Linked DNA regions of Homo sapiens. The protein of the gene in region 2 purifies or fractionates together with the protein of the main gene of each other region. This does not show direct contact. Each region holds a gene or a part of one and is shown on either strand. Other genes may lie near its edges.

Region 1 (5,676 bases), on a different chromosome or scaffold from region 2:
ACTACAGGCACCCGCCACCACGCCCAGCTAATTTTTTGTATTTTTAGTAGAGATGGGGTTCACCGTGTTAGCCAGGATGGTCTCGATCTCCTGACCTCGTGATCTGCCCGCCTCGGCCTCCCAAAGTGCTGGGATTACAGGTGTGAGACACCGCGCCTGGCCAGTCTAGGGTCTTATGTGACCAGCTGCAGAGTAAGTACCTCTAAGCTATCCATGGTCCCTGCCAGGTCTATAGACTCTACAGAGAGCACCGCTCTCATGGGTTCATGTGTACCTGTCTGGTGGCCTTGTTCCGTGTGTTTAGCCTCTGCCCAAGGCATGGATGAGTTACATGCAGTTAGTGGTGAGATCCTCATGCTGAAGCCAGCCTCTGTGCCCCAAGAAGTCATGGGCTATGATCCAAGAATCTGGGAAGTAGAGGTCTTACCCTCAGGCTTGGGTGGCTCTTTGTTGCATTTTGTGTTATTCTGCTATATGATCATTCTAGTAATTCAGTCCTTTTCAAGTTGAATTCTTTTCAGGTTGTTTTATTTTCCTTTTCCGGAGACTTTTGTACATACTGTTGTCCTGAGTAACAGTATCTCTAAGCTGAGTTACTCTGATCGGAGCTACTGAAAGGTACCTGCTTTCAGCAAATTCTGGTTTGGTTTTATTTTTTAATCAAAAAAAAAAAAAGGAGAGAAAGAAAAGAAAGACCACCCCCTATTAGAAGCAAAGGCCCTGGGAGGAGTAAGGCCTGTCACTGGGGCAGGGGCACTGTCCTCAGGGGCGGACTTTGCTCAGGGATGGCGCACAGTGACTGCGGGGGCTTAAGTCCGGTAACCCTTTGGTTTTATTTCTTTTTATTCTTGATGGGCAAAAAGCCTCCTTTAAAAAACATTATTCTTAAGAAACCTGGGAGAGAAAAAAATGCCAGTGAGAGGAAGACAAAGAAAAATTAGAGGCAGTACATTCCATATTTCAGAACTTTAGCTTTCCAGACAGTCCAATTTTGTTTTGTTTACAAATTCATCTTGCAGTACAAGGTGAAGCCAAATGGTACAAAGTCCACAGAATTGAAAAGCCATTCATATTTATCATTCAATTTTTTGATCTTCAAATGTTATGAATTCTCCAAAAAGGTAACAGGGAACAGATATCCCTTTGGTCTCACTTTATAGACAGGGAAATTACCAAAAGAAAAATCTTGGCTCTACCATCTCTACTTACAGAAGGTAAAACACTTAACAGAGACAGATTTCTGTTGGAGTTAGACTAGATTTCTTTTCACAGCCCTTAATCTCACGAGGTGAGAAGGAGTGGAAGTTGCCAAGTTGTTGGCTACCAGACCCATCAGTCTGTTTAACTCTGGCTAAAAGCAGAGAATAATGGGCAAGTTACCAAGTTTCCCCCTTCAGCTCTGGCGTGCATTCTGAAATTGTGGAAGATCCTCATGTAACACACACGCTGCAACCTGCATTTGCCACACAGTCCAGGGCATATAGAGCATTGTGATTCTTCACAGTCCGCAGAGACAAGACCAAAAATGAGGACTAAAAACTAAAGGTAGCTGAGTTTTTCAGATGGATTTTCACTCTGGCAAACTCAGTAGTTCACTCCCTCCCACCCCTCAAATCATTTAAGTAAAATGTTCTTCCAATAAACATAAATTGAGCTCTTCCTCTGTTATCCATCACATTCTGCCAGTTCTTTAAAACTGGAATATGGTACTAGGTACAGAAGGCTAAAGGGGTAGGAAAGCCCCAAATACTATAAAGATGCACTTATAAGCAGTGTGGGGTTATCACCACTGTCTACTTACTCTCCCATTCTAGGACACAGGGTGAAGAGACCACCTGGGTTCCCTCTAAAGCCCTGAACATTAGGACCACTGAGGAGGAAATATTTGTCCTTAAAAATAAATGTAGGTTCCCTGGATTGTTCTCTTTGGCTGCCACATTTGGAGCCTGAGTGGAGGCCCTTCAAATTAACACTGGTTCTGTAGGGACTGCCCAGTCAGGGTGCAATGGGATCAGACACAGGATCAAATCAGCCAGGGGCAGAAGGGCATGGTGGCCCTACGGGTAGAATGCACTGTATTGTTAGTTAACTTTCTAAATTGTTCTCTATTTAGCTTCAGCCTGAGTCAGGTCTACAATGGCCACTATTTAGAAAATAATTTAAATCAGTGAGGTAAGCACGCCGATTTGAAATATATCCAAACATCATTAAGCCTCTGGGTCATAAAACTTGGTCCCTGAACTAACAGGAGTATCTTACTCATTAATGACTAGGTTTGTTCCAAACGGCCCCTGCTGACACACATGATCCTTTTGTGTGGCACAATAAATCTGGTAATAGCAGAACAATAGCATGGCTTTTAAATAGGGTAATTTTATAATTCCTTAAGATGCTGGTTTGCTTCTTATAATGTGTTGTGTGGATTACAGTACTTAGACAAGGTTCACATTTACTTTAAAAGACTTCTATATTTTAATGCAAATCTAAGGATCATCCCCTTTCTTAGTTTATAGAAGATTCAAACTTTGTAAAACATAAATAACCTAGTACTCTAAACATCTGAAGCCCTTTGTAATACTCACTGTTTTTTCCTAATTTGAAAATAACTTATTTATATATCAAACATTAGAGCGGAGTGTAAACATGGATGTCAATCACCCTTTTAGTTTCATAAATTTGCTTTTAGCTTTCATCAACAGGCATATTTTCTTAACCTACCATGATCTCAAATGAGATAAAATATCCTTCTTCAAAAATTGTTAAGAATATTTATTAAAAAGTGCAATTCAAAAGTTAGCTGGGCAAGCACATCATTGCAAATCACAAAAAAGGGTGAAAAAACCAAAACCCCCAAATAAAACCACATGAAATACAAACAAAACAAAACAAAAAGGTTTAAAAAAAAAGTGTGCTGAGGAATGCACCCAAAAAGACAAGGAAATGAGAAGTCAAAGCTAGAACTCTATCCAGATGTTGCTGTTCTTTCCAAGTGCAAAAGAAGGTGGTGAGGAGAGACCAGCAGCCTCCACCACCGAGTTCTGGCTCTGGGTCCAAATACTACTTTAATATCAGATTATTCATCAGGGAAGTTATAAAAATATCCTATATACATGTGCACATTTGAGGCATTTTAAAAAGTCATCAGAAGGTTAAAGTTTAGTGTCTCAGCAGTTTCAGCTACTTAAACTCAATTAAAGCATCTATCATTTAAATTTGGATTGGCTCAGTTATTTGACTGCAGATGATAAAATCAAGCTGTCATCTTAGGGAAAAAAAAGAACCAAGTTTACCTACACATCCTTGCCATTACCCACAGAGTAAGAGAAGTCTGGCCCAGAGCTAACCTTTTATGTCATTACGTTTCTTAATAAATGTAATAAATGTACTAACCACTCCCAACCCCAACCCCCAGTGTAGAGTGCCCTAAGAGTAAAAGAACTGTAATGAGGACAATCTGGTATCCAAATTCATTCAAGTGTGTTACTGAGCTGTTTAGCAACAACATATGTAGCAATCACCCTCAAAACGCAAGCTGCACCTCTGGGGAGGAAGCCCTGGTACAGCAACATCAAGTCGGCAAGGATCAGGAGCTGACCTGTGGCGACATCATTAACCCTTCCCTAAGCTATGCCAATGCAGAACCCTCTTGCTCTTTTTAATTGCTCCTGTCAGTTAAAGCCACAAGTTGTTAGCACCCCCAAACCCCAGGGTGTTTCATTATTTTCCATTAGTTATTCTTACCACAAAAAAAAATGACCTGGAAAAGCAATTTTATCTTAGCATTTATCCCTGAAAAATGAAACACTGCATTTTCTGTCACAAACTGTTTCTGAGCCTTCTGTCCTCAATAATCATCAGCTCTCAGGGGATAAGAAATGCTACAGCAATGGGAAACGAAACATACCCAGAAGCTCGTATTCCTGACAGGTTTCTTTAGATGGGACAGCGGTGCACTGTCTGAGCACGGGGAAGGGTCTGAGCAGAAGAAAAGAGCTGCCAAAGATGCATGGAATGAGCAACAGCAAAACACCAGTGGAGTCTGTAAGTCCCTCCTCAGCAAACGAGGTCCCGGAAGGCAAGGCAGCAGCTAGTTCTCCTCCGAACTGGACAGGCGGCATGGGGCTTCTGTTGTCCAGCTGCAGCCAGGAGTGCAGACATCTATTTCCTCTTCCCACTGGCCCTTCCAGCGCTGGGATGGAGGAGCCATGTCAATTGTGGGGTCACACGGAGAAAAGTCAGTGCAGCAGTATGTTTCCAGGATAGGAATGTGAGTAGACGGCAATGTCACACGTGCTCAGCTTCTCCTCCTCCCCTCGGTTCATATGCAGGAGGAACTCGCACCCAGAGGCCCCGCCGTCACAGCACTAAGAAGAGGATGAGCACAACCAACAGGACTGCAAAGAGGATGGCTATGGCACACCATTGGCGCCGATCTGGAAGGCAGGACATGGGGATTAGCTCTCACAGGGACTCCACATTCCCCAAGATACAGTTATATGGAATTTATGGCACCCTTTGAAGCAGAAAAGGGGCAGAACGTGCAAATGACGGGGCCATGATCTTACACCTGCCTAGGTGCCTGATGCTCTAATGCTGCTCTGTTCTTGGCCTGCACTTCGCATGCAGTCACAACTTTGCCAGTCCCCTGAAAATGTCTCGTAATAATTACATGCTTTGTGTCTCAAGTCTTTAATTAAAATCTGCGGATCTTAGCTTTCTGCTGGTAGTTAGCATATCCTCAAAAAAGGTGTTGGCAATGGTGTTACAGATCAAAGCCTGCCTGCTTTAATCTCCCATAAAAGTCAAGTCATTTAATTAAACAATAATCACATTCTTTTCTCAATGAGCACAACGGGAGGAGGGAAAGGAGATGAAAGCTACTGCTGGTCACTTCAGGAAATATACAGCTGAAAAAGCAAGCTCCAGTGAGACAGCATGATTAATTTCACACCACACCTAGTCAAGTAAGATTACTTAACTAGTAACTGTGTTAAAGTACCTTGTACAGCTCCTCTGTAAATGAAAGTGGAATTTTTTTTCTGAAACTTTCTGCCCTACCAACAATTTGGAACAGCAGGCACAGGAAACAACTTGACTAGAGTCCATCCAAATGGCTGAGAGCAGGGAGGCCCTGTGAGACAGAAGGGCCCAGACAGGCCCTGGGGGAGCCCTGCTGCAGCTCACAATCCTGTGGTCCCAACTCTACAACAGCTGCCCCGCAGGGCTGTTGTGAGAATTAAACAACACAACCCTGTCATACACACACTGTGCAATACCCAAACCTAGGGCACAGAGGATGCTGTCAACATCAGGATGCTTCCTTAATTTGGAGACATGTAGAAAAAATGAGCAGTCCTTCCACTGATGAGTTTTGGCATCTTCCACAAAGGGCCCGACTGATAACAGAATTCACTAGCGTATGAAAATGCAGTACAACCACTAGGAATAAGAGTTCCATTTAAATAGAAATATAAAGACATATTGATTCACTAAAGTTTCTTTGAAAGCCCACTGATTTTAGCACACTATAGTTATTGAGAATCACGTTGCAAAAAGATCTCAATCTATGAAAATAAACTGCTAAACTCTCCACAAGGCAAAACATGTACTTAAAATTATTTTAAATATTATGGATATCAAAGTCTTAGAACTGGACAAGAGAACTGCCACCAAATT
Region 2 (7,030 bases):
TCCTCCAGCTGTCAGCGTAGGTACCTGTGAGGCCTTGGAGGTATGGGGACTGTTTTTCAATTGTTGGCAGATAACTGCTGTGGACGGATTAAGTAAATATGAAATTTCAAACATTATCGAGTTCAATCATTTGATTTTAAAATGTATAACTAATATCGTATACTAGTGTTAAGAAATTTCAATGCTAAATTATAGTCCTCATAATTGAAAAAACAACTTAGTATCCTAGAAAAAATTTTTTATAAATATTAAATTTGATTAATTTTAAAATAATAGGACTAGTGTTGAAACCTCAGTGTTTACATTTTTTACTGAAGTCTCCTGGGTGCTAATTATCAGAGGAGTGTGGTGCTTTGAGAAAAGCCCTGGGGGGTTGGAATGTTGGAACCCTGGCTCTTAGCAGTTTAACAGTTACACGATTCTCATTTAATCCCTCTGACTCTAGTGTTCTCATCTGTAAAATGGGACTAATAATCATAGTACCATCCTCATAGGATGCTTGTTAGGGATTAAATGAGAGGAATGCAATAATAATATGATATATGATAATACAGGTTGAACATTCCTAATCTGAAATCCAAAATGCTCCAAAATTTGAAACTTTCTTTTGAGTGCCAATATGACACTCAAAGGAATGCTCATTGGAGCATTTTGGATTTCGAATTTTCAGATTGGGGTACTCAACTAGTAGGTATTCTGCAAATATTCCAAAATCTCCCGAAATTTGAAATCCTAAACATTGCCAATCCCAAGCATTTCGGATGAGGGATACTCAGCCTGTCTAACGTGATGATATGTGAGCAGCTGGGCACACAGCAGGCCCTACATAGCAGGAGCTGAAATCTAGTGAAATCTTTCTGTGTATATAAATGAAGCCACAGATTCCTTTTATCTGTTCACCTTTCTCTAAACCAGACTGAGTGAACAGAGCCTCTCACTTCTCACTCTGGCTTGTGATGTGGCAGTGTTAGCAGAGGGGCTTCTCTCCCAGGCTTGCCCTGAGCCTCGGGCTTGTTCTCTTAGCTCTTCCACAGGTGCCAGCGTGCCGTGCAGGCCCTGCCGAGCCGGGCCCGGGCCTGCTCCGAGCAGGAGGGGCGGCTGCTTGGGAACGTGGTGGCCTCGCTGGCGCAGGCCCTGCAGGAACTCTCCACCAGCTTCCGGCACGCACAGTCAGGCTACCTCAAACGTGAGTGCTGCCCGGGCCTAGTGAAGGGATTTTGAGTAAGAAAAGCACTTTATGTTTTCTTTTTTGCCACTATTTTTTCATTTAGTCCAGTACCTTTCATTGTTAGCTTTTGAACATGCTCATACCTTGTACAGTAAAGGGAAGCCTCCTCCCCATGTGAAACCCTGGCTTGGAATGAAGGCACAGCGTGGGGTACCGACCAAGGCTGGGGGAGGGCACCAAGATAGTTCAGCATCTCAGCAAACAAAATTTGTTTTGTGTCAAGCTGCAAGAATTTGAAAATCAACCAAGCACATTTTAAAAACCTGTTGTTTTCTGGATGTTGGGGTTTGGGAGAGCTGCTCTTCAATAGGTAAAAAGCAGTTGTTATTACTGAAAGCCACATATTTGCATAACAACCAAAGTGTTTGAGAGCACCTGAGAAAACCTCCCCAGGGTCCTTGAAACACTTCCTCTGCTGGCACCACAGGTTTCACCCAGCAGACCTTTTCTTCCCAAATAGTGCAAAGCCAGATTTCAGCTCTCTTCTCATTCTAATCACCCTGTAAACTGGGTTTTTTAAAATTGCCCTTGCAATCAATAAAGTCCCCACATACTCCAAAAAACCTAGTTCTCCCTCCCTCTGACAACTGGCATATTTGTATTTTAATTTTATTATTTCCAAAATTTGATTAGGGCCATATGGAATTCATACTAGAGATGCTTCTAGAGAGAAATACTGATTTTTTAAAATGTTTTGTAACAGCAGTTAGATTAAATATTTCTGCTTCACTTAGAGATTCTCAGATGGTTGTGTCATTTTTATCTTGGCATCAAGTGAATTGTGCACATTTACACTGTGACTTTTGTCTTGAGTAATCCCAAATGCCTGCATATTGTTGTATGTTTGTAATCCTTTACTCTCCCTCCACCCCCATTGGAGATAGGCTTCTTTAAAGCGGCTAAGAATATCTCAATTTTGACTGTTGGAGTTTACTCTAGAATTCCCCCTTTTAATGGTAGAACAATACTCAGGATGGTTTACATATTCAAGTAAAATGAATTCCTATCTGTGATAGGCATGAAGAATCGAGAGGAAAGATCCCAGCATTTTTTCGACACATCAGTACCACTAATGGATGATGGAGACGATAACACTCTTTACCATCGGGTACGTGAACGGGCTGCAAAGCTGATTGCTGTGTCTGTGCACCCCATTCTGCATCTTTCACCTCCTAGACCTCGATCTTCTGTGCAGTGTCAGTGGATTGATACAGTTGACTTGTATATTCATCAGGTTGTTTTGCAGCAGGTGGAAGAACAGCCGTACTGTTTCTTCCTTTCCAAAGGCCACAGGGAGACCTTGTAATCTGCTTTCCAGAGCCTTTGGGAAAGTGGTCAACACCCTGCCTTCTTAGGAAGAGCCCAGAGAAACAGAGGGCTATCCCGGGGGTTTTGTTTATCTGCCCTTGTGGAGTTGGCAGACGTGGGCTTCTGTCTTCCCTGCTATGGCCTCAGAGCTTTAGATCCTGCTGGTTTAGGGAATTTGAATCTTTCCTGTTAGGGAAAAATGAGTGCTTACTGTGCTTTGTAGAAATATTTTCAGAATTCATTTTCTTTAAATTATTTTCATTGTCTTTAAATTATATCTAAACAAGTATACCATAGCTTTCCTGAGAGGGAAAACAATCTATCCAACACATTGTGCACTGTCTTGCTAGGGTTTTACAGAGGACCAGTTAGTTCTGGTGGAGCAGAACACACTGATGGTGGAAGAGCGGGAACGAGAGATTCGCCAGATTGTACAGTCCATTTCTGACCTGAATGAAATATTCAGGGACTTAGGGGCGATGATTGTAGAACAGGTACGTGAGCTGGCCTTCCTCGTGAATAGGTTTTCCTGCCATACTATCTGTACCTTCTTTTTCCTGTACTCCTTTCAGGGAAAAAAATTGGAGCCAATTTTCCCAACATGTGTGTGCACCTGTCCTTTATGTGTGTGTGGGTGTGTGTGTGTGTGTGTGTGTGTGTGTGTGTGTGTATATTAATATTAATCAAATATTAAATTTGATTAATTTTAAAATAATAGGACTAGTGTTGAAACCTCAGTGTTTACATTTTTTACTGAAGTCTCCTGGGTGCTAATTATCAGAGGAGTGTGGTGCTTTGAGAAAAGCCCTGGGGGGTTGGAATGTTGGAACCCTGGCTCTTAGCAGTTTAACAGTTACATGATTCTCATTTAATCCCTCTGACTCTAGTGTTCTCATCTGTAAAATGGGACTAATAATCATAGTACCATCCTCATAGGATGCTTGTTAGGGATTAAATGAGAGGAATGCAATAATAATATGATATATGATAATACAGGTTGAACATTCCTAATCTGAAATCCAAAATGCTCCAAAATTTGAAACTTTTTTTTGAGTGCCAATATGACACTCAAAGGATATATATACATAGCAATCCTAATCAGAAAATATGAAGTTCAAAATGCTCCAGAATTCAAAACTTTTTGAGTGTTAACATGATGCCACAGGTGGAAAATCCCTACACAAGACCTCATGTGACAGGTTGCAGTCAAAACTTTGTTTTATGCACAAAACTAGTAAAAATATTGTGGCCGGGCACGGTGGCTCACATCTGTAATCCCAGCACTTTGGGGGGCTGAGGCACATGGATCACCTGAGGTCAGCAGTTCGAGACCAGCGCGGTCAACATGGTGAAACCCCGTCTCTGCTAAAAATACAAAAAAATTAGCTGGGCATGGTGGCAGGTGCCTGTAACAGCTACTCGGGAGGTTGAGGCAGGAGGATCGCTTGAACCTGGGAGGTAGAGGTTGCAGTGAGCCGAGATTGCACCATTGCACTCCAGCCTGGGCAACAAGAGTGAAACTCTGTCTCAAAAAATATATATATATATATTGTATAAAATTACTTTCAAGCTATGTATATGAAACATTAATGGTATATGAAACATAAAGGTATAAGAAACATTAATGAATTTTGTGTTTAGACTTGGGTCCCATCCAGAATATCTCATTATGTGTATGCAAATATTCCAAAATCTAAAAAAAAAATCCCAAATCCAAAACACTTCTAGTCTCAAGCTTTTCAGATAAGGGATACTCAGCCTGTATATGTGTGTATTTACAAATTATATACATAGGCTACTGTCATTCCCTATAAGAATATTAATAAATCTTTTTTTGATAAATGAAGTTCTAATATTCTCTTCCCATGCCTCGAGGGTACTCATGTGAGCACCCTACTCTAGAGACCTAGTTGACTCTGACCGAGCTCAGCAATGATTCTGACGCTATAGAAGATTTCCCTTCTAATTTTGGCAGGTTATTGTGTAATGGCAATTGGAACCACTAGCGTTCAAGTAGAATTAAATTGTTGTTCACCGTTAAAATCTGATTAGGGCATTTTATTATCTTGCCAGCAGGGATTTGGGTCCTGATCCCCCTGAAACCAACTGCAGAATGGAGTGTTCAGGCTCTGGAAGATCCAGTTACATTAATTACTCCAGTGGTTCCCAGTGAACTGCTATCTCTTCTAATCCAGCATGTTTCCAATAAAAGCTCTGTTCTTCCTCATAGCCCAGTGTCCCCGTCTTCCAATTTAATTGTTTAAGAGATTAAACAATTAAACATCTTCCCCTTGAGTCCAAATTTTTAATTTTAGGTGGTAGACTGGAGTTTACCATTTCCTGCTCTGACCCATAGAGATGTGGATCCACGTTTATAGACGTGATAGTCAATTTGCAGGTCTACTTATGACAGGGGCGAGCTTACCTGGTGTTCTCTGCTTACTTGAATCCAAGTACGTAGGCAGCAAATGGGCGCAGAGCTTCTGTGCTGCTCAGAGCCTCTGTCCACTGGACCATAGATTTCTTAGGGCCCCAGGAAGTCCGAATATGGCATTTCTATGGCAGCTGAAACCAATAAGGAAACCTCAGTCTGTCAGTACTTCTTTCTCGTGAGCTAGATGTGATGGCACTAACCAGCATTCTGCCATCGAGCTCCTGACACTGCTTGAGGGTGAACTCCAGAGCCCTCCGTGTGTACCTGCAGCACACAGGGAAGGAAAACATCATCTTATGGATGATGATGTCTGTAATTTGCATATCTCATTTTTGACGTTCAGTTTTCCCAGTTGCTATTGTTGATTGTCTGTAACTGTCATTTATTACCTAGGGTACAGTCCTTGACAGAATTGACTATAACGTTGAACAGTCCTGTATCAAAACTGAAGATGGTTTGAAACAGCTTCACAAGGTAATATGTCTTTCAAGACTTGGGAATCTTAGGAACTATTTTCAAATAATCAAGAATTGGTAAGAGGGTTCTTTTCCACCATAACGATCTTCAGCATTCTTGTGTTGTCCACTCTCAATACAGTAGTGTAAAAAGGGATTCATCATTTCATTTAAAGCCAATTGTGGGGGCTGTTGCCGTTTTATTGCAGTTAATGATTCCAGGTGTATCTCACACTTAAATCCAAAATTGCTAAGAACTCCTTTTTGTGACAGTAAATTCTAAAGAGATTGGAGTTCTTTCTTTTAGAAAATATTTCATTCTTTTCTAATGCTTCTTGTTTTAGGAAATCAATTGGGCATTTGCTAAAATATGTGTTGAAAATCTGTCTGCTTGTTGCCGTTGACTTGGGCCTCTCTTGTGATACATTCCTGATGAATTGCTGATGGAGAATCATTCTGCAGAAGATAAAAATCTAATCTTCTCTTTAATTACCACAGCATATCTGTATTACCTTGAGAAAAGAGAAGTTTGTTGAAGTGAGAGTAGTAATTCTTTTATTCTGTGCTAATAAGGTAGCTGTTTCAGGGATGTTTTTATGATATTCTCTTTTAAAAAAATAGATGGAAAGCATCTTAGGAATCTTATCGGTTATAAGAAACATGCATAAACGGCTGAGACTCTCATATATAATTGGTTACGTATTTTCTTTAAAAGGAATATAACAATACTTCACAAATTAAATAATATCCATTTCCTTGTATCTTTGAGACCCAGTGGAGTTTCTAGCCATATAATGAGTGTTTTGCCAATTCACTGTTGGACTACTCTACCATTTTTCTGAAATCAGTCGCTTCCTATACCAGAGATCGCCCCATTTAATAGCAGTATTGGGTTTACAAAAAGTCAGCCCTTGCACTAGTCTAACCAGAAGCCCTGAGCTGTCTTTTCAGGGGGCTTGTTGCCATGTGTAGGTGGATATGAGACTCCAGCCTGTGGTGGGAAGAGAAGTCTGACCTTGTCTATGCAGGGTTTTTTTAAGCATTTAGATTAATTTGGTTGCCAAGCCCTGTCTATTAAAAGTGAAAACTAACTTAAGTTTCTCACTCTGTAATACCCAGGTTTTGATGTGCTGCTGAATTATGCATTGGTTTTGAAGTTTCTTAAATAAAAACTAGTGAAATATGTTTTGTAATATAACACAGATAAAAGGAAAAGCTTTCTCTGCGGGAGTGAGCAAATCTAGTGGGAACTAAAAATTTTGTTTTAGGTTCTACTTTATAAATCATTTTGAGAGGTTTTACAGTATATTATTTAGTATTGGCTTCCCTGGTGTTCTGGGTTACTTATTAGAAAAGTCAGCGTGCTCCATCTTCCCTCCAGCCACAAGGCTGTAGGCAGCACGCGCGTGCTCGGCAGTCGGCTAGTCTAAGGGTGATTGAGCGTCGGGAGCTGCTCCCCATGACCGGACTCTCGGTGCTGTCCCCGTGCCTGATGTTTCCTCCTGGTGGATGAGGGGCTCCTCCAGGTGGGCGGGCAGGCTCACTTAGGAAACAAGCCCACCGCGGGGGATGGAGCAGGAGAGATTGCCATTCTCGCCAGGGCTG
Region 3 (7,030 bases), on a different chromosome or scaffold from region 2:
TAAACAGGTATTTAGTCAGCTACAAATTATATTCTATGATAAGCCACCGTAATGAAGAAAACCAAAATATGCCACCCCAAAATATACTTCTTTGGTGTATTTTTGAGATAGCTATTCAGAAGGGCTACAAACACAAAAATGGCTCTGAAAAGCTGGAGATTTGCATTTGTAGAGGAAATCAATATTAGTTAAGTAAACAGCAAATGCAAAACAGGCTTTCTCTGAGCGCCCCCACCCTGACCCGTATTGGCTTTACCCAGATCTTGGAAAGATGAACTCACAGGAAAGGGAGACTGAAAGTCTGATGCTTTTTTATTTTATTTTATTTTTTGACACTGAGTCTCTCGCTCTGTTGCCCAGGCTGGAGTTTAGTGGTGCGATCTCAGCTCACTGCAACTTCGGCCTCCTGGGTTCAAGGGAGGCCTCGGCCTCCCAAGTAGCTGGGATTACAAGTGTGCGCCACCATGCCCGGCTAATTTTTGCAATTTTAGTAGAGATGGGGTTTCACCATGTTGGCCAGGCTGGTATGTGAACATTGGTATGTGAACTCCTGACTTCAAGTGATCCGCCTGCCTCGGCCTCCCAAAGTGCTGGGATTACAGGCATGAACCACCGCACCCAGCACTTTTAAAGGTAACAGAGGAAGCTTTTCCACAGGCTCCCATCCATTCTTCCAGGGGGCTGCTGCCTGCCAGGCTCCAACAGCAGAGCCAAGACAACCTTTGCTTGCCTTCCTCCGTTCTTGCTCTGAAAACCTGTTCCCACACTCCAAATCTCTATGCTTTTCTGCACTACAGTATAAAAGCTTCAGTTATGTGGCCCTACTTTGAGTCTCTTACTTTGCGTGTGGCCCCTGTACTTACGCACACAATACATTTTGTTTGGTTTTTCCCATTAATCTGTCCAGTGTCAATTCATTTTAGCATACTTCGACTCAACCCTTGAGAGGGAAAGTTTCAACAGTAAACAGCAGACTATTATTTTTCATTCTCTGATATATAAAATTATCTGTTAAGGAATTAAGAAACATTAAATCTACACTGAACTTTCACTTCCTGCCATGGTGGGGTAATTGGTACAAGACAAACCCTCCTGTTCTACACAACTGTGAACACGGACAAAATGGATGAATCAATTATTTTCCAAAGTTGGACAACAAGCAGTGGAGGAGCGTAATTCCTTAAAGAAGAAAAACATGTGAAATGAGCCCCGCATGGCTCTCAGCCTGGAGGCACTTTCCCAATTGCAGCACACGGAGGGGGAGCCCACAGGGAGTGCAGCAAGTCACTGAACTTAGGAGGCAGACACTGGAGTTAGGACTGCTGGGATGCATCATCAAACATAGCAGGGTAATGGTGAGAAGCAGCCACAAAGAGAAGGAGCTCCAGAAATCGAGAAAGTGGTCCCCTAAGTCTTTGGCTGAAAATGAACTTGCATATGTAGAGGATGGGACCCCACGAGGTCTCACAGAGAACAGCTACTGGGGAGTAATGGATTGAATGGATATTTTAGAGGTTGCCCAGGGCAGAGAGATGGAATTCCAAACAAACATAGGCGAGAGAGCACTTATTAAACACTACAGTCATTCAAAAGGAACCCAAGAAAGGCCAAATCATAAAAGTAGGGCTACTCAAAATGTGTTCTAAAAAGTCTAACAATAAACTCTGAAAGGACCAATCTGATTTGCCAGTAAATTATCTAACTGTCTGAATAAAGCCTCTCATGGTCTAAAGCATGCATTGTCAACAGGAGCAATATCATGTCCACAGAGGCAAAAATTAGTTCTTGGGAGTATGATGAATCTTAAGATATTACAAAGATGTGTGGCCCTCCAAGGAGCCATAGTACATGAACAGATGTACAGATACAGAATATCAGTGGTATTAAAATTTAATAGGGGAAGGAGTGGGACGATTAGGAAAAACATGTCTAAAAAGTATCCTTGGAGAAGTGATAATGAAAAAAAAGGTTGAGCTGTGCTGTTCTAAAAAATAACAATAAAATCTAGGCTTTATAACAACATAGAGGCCATAACAGCAAGTATACTATAATAAAATTATTAGACACGTGAAGAAGCAATGGAACAAGATAGAATACCTAGAAATTGACCTGGATTTTATTCAGCAGGCAATGAGGACTCTGGGATTTTGTGTAATGGCATGACATATACAGATCAGTGTATTCAAAAGCTAATTATGGAATGGTGTACAGGGTTTTGAATGACAGAAGAACAGAATCAGGAAATAGTACTACAATTATCCAGATAGAGAAACCATGAAGGCTTTCAGTAGTAGAGATATTTAGGTGGTAGATCTGCTAATTCTCAGTGACCCAGTGGATGTACAAGGTTGAAAAATTAACGATAACTCTGAAGTAACCAGTACTTGTTGAATCTGAGTGTGTTTAAAAGACTCTGGGATAAATAGTAAGAAATATAAACCCAGAACTACCAAGAGGTCTGGGCTACAAATACCAGTCAGTATAGACGCAGCCATGGAAGGAACAGGAAAGATGATAACACACAGAGGAGGTTATGGGAGTAAGTACTGAGGAAGCCTGAAGGATCCAGGCATCCAAAGGGTAGGCAGAGGAGAAGGAACGGCTGGGGAAAGAAAGCAAGTGGACAAACGAGTCAAAGAAAACAGTATTGAGTTGTCCTCTGCCCCTCCCCATGGGCATAAATGCTCCCCTGAAGTCTTGCTATTACAAGTGGAACAGAAGAACGGCTTCAACTGCAATAAACACAGAGCTGAAGAACCATCTCTGCTAGCCTTTCTTGAAATTCAGTATTTCTAGGTATGGCATGTCAGCATACGAAAGTTATCAAATATCTTTAAATATTCTCCATTCATTTAAAAAAAAGATTAGATCTATAAAAGAAATAATGATTAAAACAAGGGAGTTATGTCAATATTTTCTACACTCTATTCAAATATACCATGTGAGATGGTGTGGTAAAATGAACAAAGCTGTAAAACAGGAGTCGAAGGACCGTTCACTTCTCAAAGTCCTCCGGTGGCCTTTCTGCAACCCAGAGTAAAAGCCAAGGTCTTTACCACGGCCTACAATGCCCTCACAGATCTTTCCTCTGCTTTCTCTGCAAGCACACACACGTTTCTTCCTCTCTCTTCAACTGTAGAGAACACCCAAGCACAAATGGCCACAATCACCCTGCTGGTCACTCTCTATTCATTTATTCACTTTACATAATGTATCTCTACCTGAAATTATAATGTGTATGTATTTGTTTGTTGTCTTTCCCACTAGATTTTTTCCCCCACTATAATTTAAACTATATGACAAGTAGAACTTTATCTTGTTCACCACTGCTGCATTCTAGCACCTCGGACAGTGCCTGACACACCATAGTACTCAAGAAACTCTTGTTGAATGAAATCTATAATTAATCTAAGCCTCTTTGTTCTATCATGTGTAAATGAGGATAGTAATCCATACCTGCTCTGTCTATTCTTCACACAATGAAATGAAATAATGTATGTTAAAGTAATTTACAAACTGTAAATCCCTATTCAATAGAAGTAGTGGTGGTGAAAGATGTTTCCTAACATGGTAGAAGAAAGCTGTGGTAGCAAATATACATATAAATACATGAATTGTTAATGATAGCCTATATCAAGCTAGTCCAACCCATGGCCAGCAGGCTGCAGGCAGCCCAGGATGGCTTTTTGCAGCCCAACACAAATTAATAAACTTTCCTAAAATATTATGAGGTTTTTTGCTATTTTTTTTTTTAGCTCATCAGCTATCATCAGTGTTAGGATATTTTATGTGTAGCCCAAGACAATTCTTCTTCCAATGTGGCCCAGGTAAGCTAAAAAATTGGACATCCCTGGCCTAGAGAATAAATTTTTAGTTTCATAGTTGTTGGTTCCATTTTTCTTTATAATAGAAAATATAGCCCAGAAAGGAACACTTATCCAAGTATACAATTTCCAAATACCTAAAGGACTTTGCCCAGTATTGTACTCTTTGAGAAACAAAAAAGACTAAAGGTTGGGTTAGCTGACTTATAAGCCACAGAAATAATTTAATTTCTGAAAAAAAAATTAAGAATAAAAGATTAAAACTGACCTAAACATTATGAACTGAATTGTGTCTCTTCTAAATTCATATGCTGAAGTCTTGATTCCCATACTGAGAATGTGACTGTCCAGAGATAGGGTCTTCAAAGAGGTGATTACATTACAATGATGTCATTCGTGTGGGCCTTAATTCAATACGACTGATGTCTTATATGAGGAAATAGGGACATGGAAACGTGAAGAGGGAAGACATATGAAGACATGGGGAGAAGCCATCTAAAGATCAAGGAGAGAGGCCTCAAAAGGAACCACACCTGCCAACACCTTGAACTCCAACTTCAGTTTCCAGAATTGTGAGAAAACAAATTTCTGTTGTTTAAGCCACCCAGTCTGTGGTACTTTGTTGTCACAGCCCTAGCAAATTCATACCCTTTGTTTTTCTAGAACCCATAAGAAAAATCTTCAGAAAAGAGTTCCATTAAAAATGAGGTAAGCAAGCTAAAACAATCTTTATAAACATGTTATTTTGCTTTCATCATTTATATTGAAACTTTAACTTCAGGTAGAATTTTCTCAGTATAAATTTGAGTTGTCAAGTTCTTAATCCAATTTTCTCACTATATTTCATATTTTTACTGAGAAAAACTAGCCTTTCACAAAGCAGTTGGAGAAAATGTTACCCTAGTACAGGGCACATACTTAGGCATATATATTTATTTTATCAATTTGGGCCCATAATGAGTTTTAATTTTTTTTAATTAATAGGAGCCCAGTCTAAAAGGCATCAGAGTTATTGATGTGATCCACCTCAACTTATCAAGATAGTAGCCATTCACATACAAAACAAGCATGCATAACTGCAAATCACCCTATTTTCAGACTCTAGGAGGGATTTCTACCAGGTCCATTGATGTTGGTCTTACAGTGGAAAGGTATACGGTAGCCTAGAAGCTGTACCCTCCAAAAGCAAAACACCTAAGGCAAGAACTGAGGCGGAAAGATCCTTAAACATTCTTGACTTTCCTTGTGAATTTGGGCCCCAGATTCAGAAATACAGCTGATTTATCACCCAACACATGACTTCTGTTGCTCATAGGTAAGGCTCAGATCTTTCCTCGCCTGTATCTTTTTATTTTTTAAAGTGAGTCATATGAAATTTCATTAATTTGCTGAAAACCTAATTTCCTGTGCCAGCCTATAAGAACAGTTAGTTGTTATTGTGTTAACTTCTTTGTTCTTTTATCATTAGCAGGGTTTTTAAAATACTTTTTATCTGTATCTTTTTATTTTTAATTGCGGTAAAATCACATAATATAAAATTTACCATTTTAACCATTTTTAAGTGTATGGTTCAGTGGTGTTAAATATATTCACATTGTTGAGTAACCAATCTCCAGAAATTTTTGTAAGTTTCAGTCTGGCAAAACTGAAACTCTTTGCCCATGAAACAACTCTCCATTTCTCCCTCCCCTCAAGTCCCCGGTAACTACCATTCTACTTTCTGTTTCTATGAATCTGACTACTCTAGATACCTCATATCAGTGGAATTATGTAGTATTTGTCTTTGTGAGTGACTTATTTCACATAGCATAATGTCTTCGAGGTTCATTCAAGTTGTTGCATGTGACAGAATTTCCTTTCTTTTTTAAGGCTGAATAATATTCCATTGTGTGGATATACCACATTTTGTGTATCCATTTATTTAACAATGGATGCTTAGGTTGATTCCACCTCTCTGCTATTGTGAAAATGCTGCTATGAATATGGATGTGCAGATCTCTCTCTGAGACTCTGCTTTCAATTTGTTTTTGGACATATACTCAGGAGTGGAATTACTCAGCTGTATCTTTTCTACTCCTATTAATTTCTAATTACTAACAACTTTAACATTATGTCTTTACATTTATATTCTTAAATTTGCTATAAAGCAGATACGGTTGAAAGCCAGATATATAGGAAGAGACAGCTACATATTCTCATGGGCAATTAATAAAAAGGATCACATATAAACTGTCAATTGAAAGTGGTTTCTTTTATCTTTTGGGGGAAGGGTATGATACATCCTATTAAGAATCTAATAAAGTCTATGGAGTTTATCCCAGGGAAAAATACACATGGAAACATGCATCCAAAAATACAGATATGCTTTCAGGAGACTATGAGCCCCTGAAGTCCAGAAGCTGCAAATGTACAGGCTGCCTCTTAAAGGCTCCAAACCCTGAAAGGCCAGAAACTGAGTTTCAAAATTTTAATAAATGTTAAGTATCAGTAAATACCATTCAGACTCAAAGGGCCGCATGATTTGGATCTATTTGTGAATCATTAATCCAACATACCTTAAATTCCACCATTAGCTATCTCTATAACCATTTTTTAGATCCCTAACTCATAAAGAATGAAAGCTGTTACTTGTCTTCTACATGAGCCCAAAAGACTGTGCATTTAATGCTGACTGAGGCATGAGGAGGAAACATTTTTAAAAAAAAGTAAATATGACAAAGGGTCGAATTTGACTCACAAAATCTGTTTCGAGTTTTCCCATTTCTTGTTTGTAGCTTCTCATTCTGTTGCTGTACATCCCTCGACTTTGGGGTGGTATCTCTCGGACTTCCAAATCCATCTGTTCAAGCTAGAAGAGGGAAAGAAAAATGTGATTTAAAACACACTGTTATTCTTATTTGAACAAATGTTTACGGCTGAAAGGATCTAATTCCAGTTCCTCATTTTGTAGTTGAGGCACCAGGTTCAGGGTGCTGAATGATCAAATAACACTGAAACTACTTTTACACTTAATTTTTCTTTAGTTCAACAATTCTGAGTACTTGCCAAGTGACACACACTGTGCTCAAGTACATGCTTTGTTAAAACATATACATTTGGCCAGGCGCCGTGGCTCACGCCCATCATCCCAACACTTTGGGAGGCCAAGGTGGGTGGATCACTTGAGGTCAGGAGTTTGAGAACAGCTTGGGCAACATGGCGAAACC
Region 4 (7,030 bases), on a different chromosome or scaffold from region 2:
CACCAGCCTGGCTGCAGAGATGGCTGCAGGGAGAGGTGGGTGGAGGGGGAAGGTTCCCCAGATAGGCACCCACTGCCTCCTCCCACCTGGCTCAGCTGGGGCAGGGGACAAATGAGCACATCCTCCATGCCAGGCCTGGGGCTGGTGCTTCTTGAGGACCCTGAGAGGGTCAAATGACGGTGAGCCCCCTTTTCAAAGTGAGGAAACAGATCCAGAGAGGGGCAGTGACCTGCCCAGGGCACGGTGAGACATGGGGTGGGAATGGGAACCTGGTCTGACAAAGCCCAAGCTTTTGCCCACCACCGGTGCCCACAGCAGGGCAGGGCTCTGTGGGGTGTGTGTGTGTGGGGTGTGTGGGGCCACCACCCCAGGCCGTGAGCCAGGGACACCAGGAAATCCTGGACTCCGTGCTTCTGCCAGGCAATGGTAAAAAAACTCCGGCCAAGCAAAATCTAGCGCCAACCCTCCAGCTCCTTCCCGCTGGCCACGCCCCCTCCCACTGCCCTCTTTGGCCCCTCTTTTGCCAAGTGTCCTGAAAATAGGTGGGCATGTGTGAGCTACAGCTAAAGCCACGACAGCAGGAGTCACAAAGATCTGGAACACTGGGGCTGCAGGTCCCTAGTCATGTGGCCTCAAACAAGGGACTCTCGTCCCAGCCTCACCATCTTCACCCATAAGACGCGGTGACAATGGTGCTGACTTTAATGGGGTGCAGTGAGGATTCAAAAAGTGCACCCATGAAGGAAAGAGCACTAAGTGAGGCAGGAGCTGGACCCGCAAAAGCCTCCAGGGCTGGGTGGGCAGGTGATGCCAGCACAGAAACACAGCTGTGAGAACCACACTTCTCATCCAAAGGCTGGCTGGCAGGGGCCAGACGTGAGGGAGGAGCACGTCCCTCTTCGGGGGCAACGGGACCTGGCCTGGAGATAAGCACATGGTGGCCTGGTGCGGTGGTCCTGCGGGCGTGGGGTGTGCTACCTTGGCGTTGAGCATGTCGATGCAGAAGTGGCAGAGGGCCGCCTTGAAGAAGTAGTCTTTGGCGCTGTACTTGAGGAGGGGGCTGTCCATGGCATTGGTCCCCACCTGTAGCCATGGAGAAGTGGCACTGGTGAGCTCAGGGCAAGCAGCCAGAGGGCCAGAGCCACTGCCAGGCACTGGGGGGCCAGCTGGGAGCTGGTTCATGTCCCGAGGTGAGGCCCTGTTAACCCAGGACCCCAAGGGCAGGGAGCCAGGGACCAGCTTGGAGAGGTCAGCGGCCAGTGCGTGAGCGACCAAGATCAGGGTGTGATGGTGGCTGGGTGGGGGTGGAGGCTGTAGCCAGGTGTTCGTGGGCCTTCTGAGAGCCTGAGACAGTGGGAAGGAGGCAGCCTGGCTGTCAGGACCAACGGGAGGCTGGCATGGCGGTGGGCAGAGCGGCGGCAGGCGGTGGGAACATGAGAGGCGGCGCCCGCCCCTCTCTCCCAGGGGGCCAGCTGCCTGCCTTTTTCTCGGCCATCACCCAGGGCTCCGTGCACGCTGGGGGGACCCCATGTGACACTCCCTCCCTCCCACTGTGGATGAGGACCATCGGGCCATGGGGTGGGGTGCCCACGGCCACCCTGGGCCTCTTGGCACTTCTTCCCATTCCCTCCCTCTGGGTTCTTTAGCCAGCCTCACTCTGGGCCCCTCCAGGAAGCTCTGCGAGGGGTGTGGGAGGGGCACAGCCAGGGAGAGAGACGGTGCTGGCACGGCATGGAGTCGTAGGTGGAGAACATTCAGCCAGGCTGAAGACAGGGTGGGGGGATGACATGGCAAGGGATGTCGGGGGAGAGGCAGAGGGTGAGCCGGGGGAGGGGTGGTTCCAGAACAAGGTGCCGGGGCTTAGGAGGAGGCACAGGCCCTGAGAGGGGGCAGGGTGGAAGCCGCCATCCCCACCTGTCCCCACCTGTTCGTAGATGTCAATGGCCTTCTGATACTGCTCCAGCAGCGCAGCGTAACCAGCCACCTTCAGCAGACACTTGTTGGCTGAGCTGTGTGGGGAGGAGTAGTGAGGGGAAGTGGTGGCGGTCCCTGCGGGGCTGGGGCAGGCAGGAAGGGGGCTACCTGTTGGACTCCTCGCCTTTGTAGTAGTCTGCAGACTGCTCGTAGTGGGCAATGGCCTGGGGAGACACGGGGGATGGGTTCCAGGGGAGGGCAGGGAAGGGAGAGGAGGCCTCCGTGAAGCTTCCACACCCTCCGCCCTGCCTGCCTGGGACACAGCCAGACCCCATTCTCCAAGCTCTGCCGGCGCCCCATGCCCCCTTCTCGGCACTCAGACACCAGAGGACTCCCCTGGTGGGAAGAAGAGAGAGCAGCACTGGTCCTGGCTGCCAGCCCATGCAGGGCCCTGCTGCCACTCACCTTCTCGATGTCCACCAACTCTGTCTCATAGATCTCAGCAATGGAGATGTGGTGCTTGGCCGCAATCGTGAATCGGCCCTGGAGGGGACACAGGAAGGGGCTGCCTGCGACTCATGACCTCCTGCGTGCCTGCCTGCTGACCTATGACCCTTCAAGTTCCCACCCCTCAGCCACGCCTGTGAGGAGGTATGAAGAAGACCTGAGGTGTGAAGAAGATCGAGAGGTGGGGGAACACAGGAGTGAGAAGGGAGGGCCCCAGCACTAGAGGCCTGGCTATGCGTGCTGGGCTGAGCGGGTGATGTTGGACAAGCCACTCCAGGGCCTTAGCCTAATTCCATCCCATCCACGAGGGCACAGATGGTGTGACACCAGAGAGAATGTGAGCACGAGCACTTGGCCAAGGCCCTGGCCCTTAGGAAGCCTCTGATAACAGCCAGAGAGGCGGAAGGACCAGTCCAGAGCCACTTGGCAAAGGGCTCTGGAGAAACCAGGATGGGAGGGAGGGCTTGAGACCTCTGCCCAAGAGTACCAGCTCTGCCCCCAGGCCAACACCTATCTGTCAGCCTCCCCCAGGCACACCCAGAGCTCCCCAGGGAGGCCTCAGGTTCCAAGGGGCCTCGCACCTTCCATCCGCCTCCACCCAGTGTCCAGGCGCTTGCCTAACTGCTCTGCACCAGGGGCTGGTCCAACGCCACCCCCTTGCTGAGGGCAGTAGGAAAGGGCAAGGCCCTGGGCTCAGCCAGACCTTGTTTCGGGTCTCAGTGACTCCTGCTTGTAGCCACATGTCCCTGGGCAAATCATGTCACTTGTCTGAGCCCCTCTCCTCCACTAAGGAACGGGGATGACAATAATGCCAACCTCACAGGGCTGTGGATTAAACCACCCTGCAGTGTCTGGCCTAATAAATGGCAGCTGCTATTATTGTTCTAATCACAGTCATCCCTGCAGCACTGCCCTGAACGCAAGGGGTAGGGCTCGTGTCCCTGCCTGGGGTTGGAGGGCTGAGACAGACAGGGCAAGCGGAGAGGCAAAAAGGAGCTGGCCAGGCACGGTGGCTCATGCCTGCAATCCCAGCACTTTGGGAGGCCAAGGCAGGTGGATCACTTGAGGTCAGGAGTCTGAGACCAGCCTGGCCAACATGGTGAAACCACATCTCTACTGAAAATACAAAAATTAGCCAGGCATGGTAGCACACGCCTGTAATCCCAGCTACTCGAGAGGCTAGGGCACGAGAATCGCTTGAACCTGGGAGGCAGAGGTTGCAGTGAGTGGAGATCACGCCACTGAACTCCAGCCTAGATGAGAGAGAAACTCTGTCTCAAAAAAAAAAAAAAAAAAAAAAAGAGAGAGAGAGAAAGCACTGACAGGAGCCCCGGCCTGGGTGGGACCCTTCACTCTGGCTCCAGTTGGCAGCTGCCCATCTGGTCTGCATCTGTCGTTGGCAACGCGCCCTGGGGGCAGGGCAGGTGCTGAGCCTCCTGTGGGCTCTGCCTATCCCTGTGGCCTGCTGCAAGATGCTTATCAAATGTGACACTTGCGGGAAGGCTGGGCAAGGGGAAGTGCCGGACACACACTCTCCAGTAACCTAATTTCTTTTTTTGTTTTGAGACAGGGTCTTGTTTTGTCGCCTACGCTGGAGTGCAGTGGTGTGATCACAGCTCACTGCAGCCTCAACTTCCTGGACTCAAGCGATTTTCCTGCCTCAACCTCCCAAGAACTAGGACCCCAGGTGCATGCCACTACACCAGGCTAATTTGTTGTAGAGAGGAGGTCTTGCTATGTTGCCCAGGCTGGTCTCGAACTCCTGTGCCCAAAAGATCCTCCCACCTCAGCCTCCCAACATGCCAGGATTACAGGCATGAGCCACCCTGCCCAGCTCAATAACCTAAGTTCTATGAATGAAAACCATGACTGCCTGTGGAGTGAGGGGGCCGTCAGGCTGGTGGGGAGCTGGGTGAAGACCCAGCCAGCCCAGGCCAGCTCAGGTGACCTAATCCCCCCAGCTCCCACTTCCCCCTCCCCAAGTGGTTTGGCCGCAGAATAAGAACAGTGCTGGGGGTGCTGAAAGAGGGGACGCAAGGCTGGGGCAATGCAGTGGGACCCGGGGGTGTCAGGACAAGCAAGCAGCCCTTACCATGTCTGTGTAGATCTCGATTGCTCGCATCAAACAGTTAATGGCCTCTGGAGAGAAAGGGAGGTGGGAGGAGACATGAGAAAGTGAAGTCGTTTCAGCAGAAGCTGAGGAGAGGAGGCGGACGCAGGCGCACCTGGCTGCCAGCAGAGAGATCAATAGGCGCTCAGAGCTGCCAGCGCTGCCACACACTCTCAAGGGGCTGGGAAGAAGGGGACGGAATCCCTGAGCCCCAGGAAATCTGGTGAGAGGGCTGACTCTGCAGACTGTGACTTGCTGGGCACATGCTTCTGGGGGAGCCCTTCTCTCCTCGGGCTGCCAGGATGCTACCAGCTTCCCACAACCCCAGGGACAGGGCACAGCAGTGCTAGGCCAGGATGATGGCCAGACTCCCACGGTGTTTTAAGACAGACCTGCCAAGGCCCTGCTCTTGAAGGACTGAGCTGCTGGCAAAGGGGAAGGAGGCATGGGAGGCGGCCAAACCAGCATCTGAGGTGGTCTTGGAGGCAACAGGGTGCCAGGTTCTACCTGGGCTCTGCCACCATCTCTGCAGGATCCTGAGCAGCTTCTGCTCCTGCACCAGGAGGACCTGGACCTCTGGCACGAGGAGGCTGGATGTCATCAACACTGAGCCCTCAGTGTGCTCTCCACTGCCCCCTCTTCCTCGTAGCTCAGCAGTCGGGAGCCCTCTGCTCAGTCCCTTTAACCTAGTCCTGCCACCCACCAGCTCCTCAAAGGTTTTGCCAAAAAACCTGAACACACCAGGATGGCACTGAGGAAGAACTGGGCTACCTTTGTTGTACTATCTCTTGCAAGATTTTAAATTTGGGAAAGGCTTTTTTTTGACAAGTTATTTGGAGGAGAGAGAAAAGCATGAGTGGGAGGCATTTTCTAGCAGACAGAAATGAGCTCTCAGGGGGTATTTTTTAAGAACACCATTTTAGCACATCTCAGGAGGACAGGGGTGTTGTGGGGAGGGAGGCCTGGGTTGGGGAGAGGGAAAGGCAGGGAGCTTGGACAGGCCACAGGGCATGGGCTCTGAGCTTCAGCCTGGGCATCTGAAAGTTCCTGGTCACCGTGGGGGTCTCCATGGTCACCCAGGCCATGTTCGCCTGAGAAGAGGGTGCTACCAAGAAGCGCCGGGGCTGGGCTCCTCTCAAGGGGCTCACGGTCTGGATGGGACTCCAAACTCCCTCCGTGGGGAGGCATCTGGACAGAGGCTCTTTGTCTCAGGTCTGTGGCTGGGCTTTCAGGGAGTCCAACCCCTCCTTCTGACATGTAAACAGTGGGGTCCATAAGCACTCCTCTGGGGAGTGGGGTCTGTAGGTTTTGTCCAATTCAGAAAGACCTCTGGGGATCTAAAAGGGACTGAGAGAAGGTACAGCACTCAGTCCAGGTTCTAGGGCTGACAGACCGAGACTGTGGCAGCAGACAGTGGAAACGGTGGCAAAAAGGGGGCAGATGAGGAGGAAGGGGAGAGAACACAACCTAAATCCGGCAGTTTGAAGACACATACATCCTGTAATCGGCGGACCCAGAAGCAACGGCTAAGCCGGGCCACGCTGCAGAGGAGAGCAGCAGCTGGAGTGAGGTGAGAGGCCCGCCTTGCCCCGCCCCACCTGGCTGCAGTCTCCACATGGAGGCCCCGGGCTGCTCACTGGTTCACTCTCCTGGCCGGAACACCCAGGACACCAACCTGGCACCCTGTGGGCTGAGGCGGCAAAGGCTGCTGCTCCGCAGTGAGCAGTGAGATCTGCAGCTGCCACCTGGGCCTGCTGGCACTGGCTCTGGAGCACCCGCCGTCAGCATGGCACAGTCCTTGCAGTAGCAGCAGGGAGACAGCTTACCCCCCAGGCAGCAACATGGACTCACGGGGTTAAGTCCCCTCCATGTCTGGAAAGCGGCGGGCCACCAGCAGACACCTGGGACAGCTGGCTCCTGGACGAGCTTCTGACACACTCATGACTGCTACTCTTATCTCAGGTCACCAGGCCTTGTGCACTCGGACAGGCAGAGCAACACCCAGTTCTGTGGCCTGGCCCCTCCTGTACCCACCCACAGAGGGCTGGAAAGGGGCTCAGAGCAATACAGCCCAAGTTGGGGAGCTATGGCCCAGGCCACCGCCCATCCCCGCAGTCACTCCTACCAGCGACGCCCAACCTGACTTCTGCGTCTCTGAAGCCCTTCCTGGTTACACTTGGTCATCTCCTCCTTAGTAAAATGGGGGCAAATCACAGAATGCACAAAGAAATCAAATGGGTTAAAAGATGCCAAGCATCTGGTACACAGTAGAAACCCAGTAAATGGCAGCTGGGGAGGAAGTGGGGGACAAGCAGGGGCCAGGTCGCTTCTCTGCCCCAGGTACACACACTGCCCCCACCCCCAACTATCAGGCAGGCCTGGGAAGAGGCCTCGCTGGCCCGAGTCTGCCCTGAGCAGCAGCCATGGTTGGGTAACTGAGGAACCAATAACACATATGAGCATCACCCTTCCCCACCCAGAGCCACCAAGGTGGCAGCA

The links.
Region 1: the proteins of STX16 (region 2) and STX6 purify together in Homo sapiens (affinity purification with mass spectrometry; 2 studies listed by BioGRID and IntAct, with this or other methods). This does not show direct contact.
Region 3: the proteins of STX16 (region 2) and VTI1A purify together in Homo sapiens (affinity purification with mass spectrometry; 2 studies listed by BioGRID and IntAct, with this or other methods). This does not show direct contact.
Region 4: the proteins of STX16 (region 2) and NAPA purify together in Homo sapiens (affinity purification with mass spectrometry; 4 studies listed by BioGRID and IntAct, with this or other methods). This does not show direct contact.

Annotation. Positions count from the first base shown.
Region 1 is NC_000001.11:180,972,214-180,977,889, forward strand, and holds the end of STX6 (syntaxin-6), read right to left. Parts: intron 4,434-5,676; coding exon 4,357-4,433; 3' UTR 512-4,356; downstream 1-511. UniProt on the Homo sapiens protein: SNARE promoting movement of transport vesicles to target membranes. Targets endosomes to the trans-Golgi network, and may therefore function in retrograde trafficking.
Region 2 is NC_000020.11:58,668,268-58,675,297, forward strand, and holds part of STX16 (syntaxin-16), read left to right. Parts: intron 1-1,023; coding exon 1,024-1,186; intron 1,187-2,244; coding exon 2,245-2,336; intron 2,337-2,886; coding exon 2,887-3,030; intron 3,031-5,363; coding exon 5,364-5,444; intron 5,445-7,030. UniProt on the Homo sapiens protein: SNARE involved in vesicular transport from the late endosomes to the trans-Golgi network.
Region 3 is NC_000010.11:112,464,189-112,471,218, reverse strand, and holds part of VTI1A (vesicle transport through interaction with t-SNAREs homolog 1A), read right to left. Parts: intron 6,673-7,030; coding exon 6,562-6,672; intron 1-6,561. UniProt on the Homo sapiens protein: V-SNARE that mediates vesicle transport pathways through interactions with t-SNAREs on the target membrane. These interactions are proposed to mediate aspects of the specificity of vesicle trafficking and to promote fusion of the lipid bilayers.
Region 4 is NC_000019.10:47,491,037-47,498,066, forward strand, and holds part of NAPA (alpha-soluble NSF attachment protein), read right to left. Parts: intron 4,561-7,030; coding exon 4,514-4,560; intron 4,109-4,513; exon of another isoform or gene 3,992-4,108; intron 2,566-3,991; exon of another isoform or gene 2,458-2,565; coding exon 2,380-2,457; intron 2,139-2,379; coding exon 2,083-2,138; intron 2,010-2,082; coding exon 1,925-2,009; intron 1,084-1,924; coding exon 979-1,083; intron 1-978. UniProt on the Homo sapiens protein: Required for vesicular transport between the endoplasmic reticulum and the Golgi apparatus. Together with GNA12 promotes CDH5 localization to plasma membrane.